Homo sapiens: one gene and its partner. The protein of the gene in region 2 purifies or fractionates together with the protein of the main gene of each other region. This does not show direct contact. Each region holds a gene or a part of one and is shown on either strand. Other genes may lie near its edges.

Region 1 (4,389 bases), on a different chromosome or scaffold from region 2:
GGGAGCTATTTCCCTGTAGTCCATCTCATTATCAAAGTTAAATTCCTGCTCCAGTTGACCAGAGCATGTGGACACAAAAGAGCAGCTTAGGTGGACTTGAGATACTACGTGTAAACGATTGCCATAAGATAGAGATCTCATTAAGACTCATTCTAAACACAGATGGCAGCTGTCTCTCTCTGGCTGGCTTGCTTGCTTTCTCCTCTAGTCCTGTTTGTCAAATTGGTTCCTTTAGGACTCCCAGTAAATGTTCTAATCTGTTTTAGTAACTTCCATGGCAACTTCTTCAGGTCAATTTCCCACACATATGCTGAACTTTCAGTCAAATATTCCAATTCTAAACATCTGTAGAGTGTCCTTATTTCATATTGAACATTGTATTTTTTGAAAAGGTACACTGATTTTAGAAGAGTAAATGGCTCTATATTCCTTGGTAGCTCATGTAATTAAATAGAAAAGAAACTGTAGCTGCAAGTGCTGTCAAATATGCATAACTGTCCAAGAAAACCCTGTCATGGCCTTTTGTTAAAATGAACAGGCACTTATATCATTCGTTTGGTTCATCAAAAATGCTTATCACAGGCCAGGCGCAGTGGCTCATGCCTGTAATCCCAGCATTTTGGGAGGTCAAGGCGGGAGGATCACCTACCAGCCTGGCCAACATGGCGAAATCCTGTCTCTACTAAAAATACAAAAGTTAGTCAGATATTGTGGTGCACAGCTATAATCCTAGCTACTAAGGAGGCTGAGGCAGGAGAATCACTTGAACCCAGGAGGCGGAGGTTGGAGTGAGCCACGATCACGCCACTGCACTCCAGCCTCGGCAACAGAGTAAGACTCCATCTCAAAAAAAAAAAAAAAAAAACAGACAGAAAAATAAAAGAAATGATTATCACGGTCTTGTCCAAATGAGGGCCACAAAAGCCATCACCTGTGTCTTTGGAATGGAGCTCATTTCAAATGAGCATATGATTATGCCAACAAAAGAATGGTGAGAAAGGAACTCTTGTACACCCATAAAGGAAAACATGCCCCAAGTGTTCTGGAAAATAATTCAACCATATATCTGAAACTCTTACCAAGAAAAGTTTTCTAACCTTTGACTCAATCATTTCACTGCTGGGAATCTATCTTTAAAAAATCATCAAAGGGCCAGGTGCGGTGGCTCATGCCTATAATCCCAACACTTTGGGAGGCTGAGGCGGGAGGATCGCCTGAAGTCAGGAGTTCAAGACCAGCCTGGCCAACATGGTAAAACCCTGTCTCTACTAAAAATACAAAAATTAGCCAGGTGTGGTGGTGTGCACCTGTAGTCCCAGCTACTCGGGAGGTTGAAATGGGAGAATTGGTTGAACCCAGGAGACAGAGGTTGCAGTGAGCCAAGATTACACCACTGCACTACAGCCTGAGTGACAGAGTGAGACTCCATCTCAAAAATAAATAAATAAATAAGTAAATAAAATGGCTCAAGGTTGAAGTGAGTGCTCTTTTGCCCGCCTTCTGCCTTCTGCCAGGGGAGGACACAGCATTAGTCCCTTCTGGTGGATGCAGCCGACATCAATCATGCTGCTGCCTTGGTCTTAGACTTCCCAGCCTCCAGAATTGCAAGAAATAAATTTCTGTTGTTTACAAATTATCCAGTCTGTAGTATTTTCTTACAGTAGCACAAAGGGACTAAGACTAAGACATGGCTTTATGAGTATATGATTATGCCAGCAAAAGAACGGTGAGAAAAGATTTCTTATACACCAATAGAGGAAAACATGCCCCAAGCATTCTGGAAAACAGTTTGGCCATATATCTGAAACTCTTACCCAGAAAGTTTTCTAGACTTTGAATTATTTCACTGCTGGGAATCTAATCTATCTTTCAAAAATCATCAAAGACGTAGGTTAATATTTATGTACAAGATGTTCACTGTAGAAAAAAAAAACAGAAATAACCTGTTTCCAGTAAATACATTGGGGTTTATTTATGACAGGTTATCCAGCTGCTGAAAGACAATGTATTTGTGGCATACTGCTAATGACAGATGAAACGTTTCTGATATAGGCAGGAAAAAATAGTAGGATTTTAAATACTGTATCCAGTCTTACCTAAATGCAATATGTAAAAAAATATGATACATATACACCAGAAACACATATGCTGGCAAATACGGTAGTTAAGAGCATGGGCTTTGGAAATAAACCGACCTGGTTCAAATTCCAGCTGTGCCGCTTTCCAGCTGTGTAACCTTGAGCAAGTTAGTTAACCTCTCTGTGCCTCAGAATGCTCACCTGGAAAATGGGGATAATAGTACCTACCTTACAGAGTTGAATGGACAGTAAATGAGACAATTCATGCAAATGCCTTGGCGCACAATGCCCAGCACATTGCAAGCACTCAATAACTACACGCCATTATTAGCATCATCAACACAGAGAACAAATGGGGAAGAAATGCACCAATATGCTAACAGGTATTATTTCTGGGTGGTAGAATTCCAGGACAGTTTAGCTTTCTCCTTTATAGTCTTCTCATTTTTCCAAATAATCTACAGTAAGTATTATGGAATCAGAAAGGGAAATCCATTATACAAAAAGAAAATCTGTTTAATTATTAGTATTTGCTACGTGCAACAGTGAATGCATACACGAAGGGAACACCGTGTGAGTCACAAAGTGAGCAATGCCTTTCACCCCATGTCTACTGGGAGCCTCAGTTCTCAGCAGCTGCCACCCTCCTGCAGAGGTCTCATTACTCACAGGCGCAGTTCCTTGGAAGCCATCCTCACCAGTGTTGGTCACCGGAAACTCGCCCTGCCAAATGTTGGCATAATGCTGGCCTTTGGGCTGCAGTTTGTTGCCCCAGGGGAAAAGTCTGTCAGAAGAGACACAGGCATCAGCCTGTCAAACAGGCACAGGTTTTGGATGAAAGTCAAGAGAAGGGATGCAATGAAAAAGAGAACATTGCTTGCTTGTTCTGAGTGAGCCAGTTAAAATATATATATAAATAAATAAAGCTTTTAATCAGGATTTATTTTCAATTTCCTTATAACTTCTCATGTCACGTCCACAACAGCCTCAGTCTTGCCCAGGTACTCAGGAGGCCTGAAATAAATCACAAAACTAAAAGAAGGACTTATAGAAAGCTGGGAGAGTAGACCTCATTTTGGACTTATATGGTAGTGTGATCAGGCACCACCACACCACACTTTTTTATAAAGCCTGGGCTATTTTAAGGAGCCTTTCCTAGAAGATGTGAACCCAACATGAGTTTTCTGTCTCATGGCTCTAGAAGCAGAGACATACCGCTGCTTCAGGAGATGCCTAAAATAAGAAAATGCTAAAAGCAGGGCAGTCTGCCAAGAAGTTCTAAGCAGTGATATGTAACTCAAGGGGGTTGAATTGCTAAGACTTGCTTTGGGGCTGGAGGGAGCCCACTTGGCCAGACACTTGGTTTAGGGGTGATAAAAGATTTGTGACCCATTCTCCAGTGTCTTCTAAGTAATTTCGTGGAAAAATAAGAAAAAGAATTATTGTCGTTATTAACTTTCTAACCAAAGTAAGTTCCATGGAGTTTTTTGTTGTTGTTTGTTTGTTCAAATGACCAACATATTGTCAGGCAAAATGAGATCCTCTAAATACCTATTATGCAGGCCTCCTCGACAGCTGTATTCCCACTCAGCTTCCGTGGGCAGCCGCTTCCCTGCCCAAGTGCAGTAGGCAACCGCATCATTCCAGGACACATGGAGAACTGGATGATCCGGCCTGGGGAAGAGCAAAAGTAGAATGAAAAGTGACACCAATCAGAACAAGAAGCAGGAGCTGGCTTCAGCAAAGCGCCCATAATCCCCCTCAGTTCAATCTGTGACACTGAGGTCATCCTGGTCCTTAAGTCAAACCCCAGCCATGCTACATCTGTCATGCTCCACCAACGGTTTCTGACAACCCAGGCTCCCAAATGGGTTACAGTTCCACTGGGAACTAGACTCAAAACATTTCTTCACTTTGTAGGCTCGGATTCCCACAGAATGTCATTGGTATGGCAGATGCGGAGATACTCCAGCTGCTAGGAGGGCCAGCAGGAGCTTTCAGCTCCTTTGGGGTTCAGCAGAGCTGACAGCCATCTCAGAGAAACCAGTGACTAACCAACCACAGCAGGGGCATACAGAGCCAGCCATTTCAGCCTACAGTGGCTCAACCTATGGGCCATATACACCCTAGAGGCCCCTGTGTTGGGTGGAGCTTGGTTGGACCTGCATTGTGGCTTTGACTTCTCCCTCTGCCCAGTCCTGCTCTGGCCCCTGCTTTCTACAGGTGTGGGGCCCTAACATTCTGCATCCTAAACTCTGTTTCAGCCTCTGTTTCCAGAGAACCCAACCTGTGACCCTTGGCTTTCAATTCT
Region 2 (3,500 bases):
GCTGGGACTACAGGCATGTACCACCATGCCCAGCTAATTTTTGTGTTTTTAGGAGAGACGGGGTTTCACCATATTGGCCAGGATGGCCTCGATGTCTTGACCTTGTGATCCACCTGCCTTGGCCTCCCAAAGTGCCGGGATTACAGGCATGAGCCACCACCCCTGGCTCGAAATATGATTTTAAGCCCATCCAATTGGCAAATATTTATATACTTTGTAACACCAAATGCTTGCAAGGGTGTGGCACAACAGAGATCCTCCTACACTGCTTATAGGACGATTGTACCTGGCAAACTCCTTTTGCCTACTTGTCCCTGTAGCAGTGATCCCAGAGTGCCCAGGCAATAGCTGTATCTTATAACTCAATGGAGTCTTGCTATATTCCCAGATAAAAGTGTACTGTTTTGGGGACTAGGACCTCTAACTCTACAGAGCCAAGAGTGTGGGAACAAAAGCTACAAAGTCTCCCAATGGGTCCCTGAGATAGTAAATGAAGTCAATCCTGTTTCTCTCCTTTGCTTTCCAAACACGTGTATTATTCATTTGGGGAACATGGTGTGTCCCTACCTTTGGAGTGTTTGATTCAGTGTCCTGGAGTCCGGCACCCACCTGCACAGTTTGTTCACTGAACTGGTGCTGTGGCTGTGCCTTGGGGCTATTCCAGTGCTTTTTCAGGACGGCAGTTCCTGGTGACGTGCAGTAAAATAAAACAGGTGGAAACCAGCTGTGGGCTCACTGCTGCATTTTCCTTGCTGCAAAGTGAGTTGCTTGGTCTGATGGATGTTATTTAGGGGACAGAAGTTGGCCAAGACCCTGAAGGCAGGAAAGTCAAACACGTGCCAAGAATACATGTATGTGAGTGTAAGAACACATCACTGGCCCTTTCAGCATGGAAGGGGCCCGGTGTAATCCTTTGCCACCTTATGGTGGGTTGGTCCTCTCAAGGAGTGGTGCTGTGTGAGGCACTTGGTGACAGTCTCTGTTGCTGGCCATTTGGACATTTGGTGGTGGCAGTAGCTAGGTGGACCTTGGTGAGCGGGTGTGCATGCTGTTGGGCCATGTGTAACCTATCTCTGCCATTGTGGCCAGTTCGTTCCTGCATCCATTACGCAGGTACTAGGGTAGCCAGTGAAGACACTGGCTGGCATCCCCTGGCTGGGCCCCTTTCCATGCTTTGTGGATGAGTGCCTCTTTCATGGTAGATGCCCTCTGGCTGGCATTATCATGTGGTAAAGAGATCTTCATGCTGCATACTCACTCCCACATGTCCACCTATGTCTCTCTACCCCAGATTTCCTAATTCTTCCTCTTCCAGTCTTTGTGTTTCTGGCCTCTGACTAGGCAGCCAAGCCACTTGCTGCTGCCCTTGAGTCCACAGCTGTCCTGAACTTGGGCTATTCTTCCCTCTCTGAAGGAACCAGTTGGGAGGATTTTTCCCTTACCCCTGTCTTTCCTGGCCACTCTAGAGTAAGGCTGCAGTGGAGCTGCCCTGCATTTCCAGCCTGCACCCATATAACAAACCAACCATTCAACACCCCACCCCCCGCACCCCCATCCCCCAAATCGGCCTTTCTCTCTGCCCCCAGCTGGTTTTACAGGATCGCCACACAGCCGTAGGTGCGAAGTGAGGGAGGGAGTTGGTGCAGCCTGGTGGGTGCTGGGGGAGTCTGGCTTCCTATTCGTGCAGCTCACGCGTGCCCTCTGGTCCTGCTTGTGCATGATTCCCGATGTACAACTTCCTCTTTATGATAGACTGTGGCTGTAGCCCCTTGACCTTATAATCTGGTGGGTCTGATGGGACTTACCTTTTGATGGGAAATTTCAGCCACATCATCCCCTAGTGCTCCATGGCTGCCATGGTGTGCACTGTGCAGTGTGCTTCATTATCACCCATGTCATGATCTTGAAGTGCTTTTTCCCATTAAACTAGGCTTCTTGGTGAAATGGTCGATTCTGGGACTGGGGTAGGAAATGTGCAAGGTGAGTCTGGGACATCCTGTCAAACCAGAGAGCAAAGAAGCTATGAGACAACTGAGGAGAAGGAGCCAATTTGAAGAGGGTCTCACTGGCCAAAGATATGACTGCTGAAGCTTACATGAGAGCAGTCATTGAAACGATCAAATATGTTTAAATGAATATGTTTGTGATGATGTTTAAAAAACTCTTCGATTAGCCTGGGAGATAGCAAGTTCGTCATCTTGAAGACACTATGTAAATGGATGAAGCAAGCATTTATCTTCCCTGTCCCATGTGAATTGTACCACTGAGTAACAAAGTAGTAGCTGAGGGGAAGCTTTTCATTATAAGGTATGAAAATGAAGTGATAGAATTAGAAGATCACTATTTTGCAACTCTCCAGGAATTAATACATCTAGGCATTGAGCACCCATCAATGCTAACTAGACATGAAAGAGACAACTAGACATTTTGTGCTTTCTAATCAAAGACCATCCATAGCCCCACCTCTAGTCTTGCCAGAGGATCAAGTCTGAGTCTGATGAAGCCTCTGGATCCAATTGTCAACTTGCAGAAAGTTGTCCTCTGAGGACGGTTGTGTGAATTGAATTGCACCATGAGAACACAGTCCTCAGAATCCACAGTGTGAGAAACTGAACAGGTCAAGTAGACTGTGATCTTCAAGGGATAAGGTCAAAGGAAAAGAATGGAGACAATGTGTTGATTAAAATGACTTAAAGACAGCCGGATGTGGTGGCTCACGCCTGTAATCCCAGCACTTTGGGAGGCGGAGGGGGGCAGATCACCTGAGGTCAGGAGTTCGAGACCAGCCTGGCCAACATGGCGAAACCCCATCTCTACTAAAAACACAGAATTAGCCGGGCATGGTAGTACGCGCTTGTAATCTCAGCTACTAGGGAGGGTGCGGCAGAAGAATTGCTTGAACCCGGGAGGTGGAGGTTGCAGTGAGCCGAGATTGCGCCACTGAACTCCAGCCTGGGTGACAGAGGGAGACTCCATCTCAAAAAAAAAAAAAGAACTTAAAGACGTATCAAATTTAAAAAAATGAGCAAGACTATAATGTCAGGGGTGGACACTTAGATGATAAAGTGTAAGAAACATAGGAAGTGATTACTGTGAAAGTCAGATAACGGTTGCTTTTTGGGCTATAAGGTTTCTGTTGGGATTGGAGTGTAGCACACAGGGAGGCATGTCTAGGGTAGATGGCAAACTTCTGATTCTTGACCCAGGTGGTGGTTGTAAGGGTGTTTGCCTAATAACAGTGCATTGAAATATATGTTTGTTTTGTGTGGTTTTTTTGCATCAGTTTTGTTTTATAACAAAAGGCTAAAAATAAGTATTTAAAGAAAATAGTGCATACTATATTTTATTTGCTGATATTCATAATGATCACCAGATTATTGAAATTTATGAGTAATTTTGCTATAAATAAGCCTGTTTTCTTTGTTTAAACACACACACACACATTTTCACACTCACACCTTCAAAGCCACATAATAGAATGTTTAGCTTAAACCTGCAGC

The links.
Region 1: the proteins of MSRA (region 2) and SUMF1 purify together in Homo sapiens (affinity purification with mass spectrometry; one large-scale study listed by BioGRID and IntAct). This does not show direct contact.

What each region holds. Positions count from the first base shown.
Region 1 is NC_000003.12:4,414,381-4,418,769, forward strand, and holds part of SUMF1 (formylglycine-generating enzyme isoform 1 precursor), read right to left. Parts: intron 3,753-4,389; coding exon 3,630-3,752; intron 2,863-3,629; coding exon 2,748-2,862; intron 1-2,747.
Region 2 is NC_000008.11:10,239,292-10,242,791, forward strand, and holds part of MSRA (mitochondrial peptide methionine sulfoxide reductase isoform a precursor), read left to right. Parts: intron 1-3,500. UniProt on the Homo sapiens protein: Has an important function as a repair enzyme for proteins that have been inactivated by oxidation. Catalyzes the reversible oxidation-reduction of methionine sulfoxide in proteins to methionine.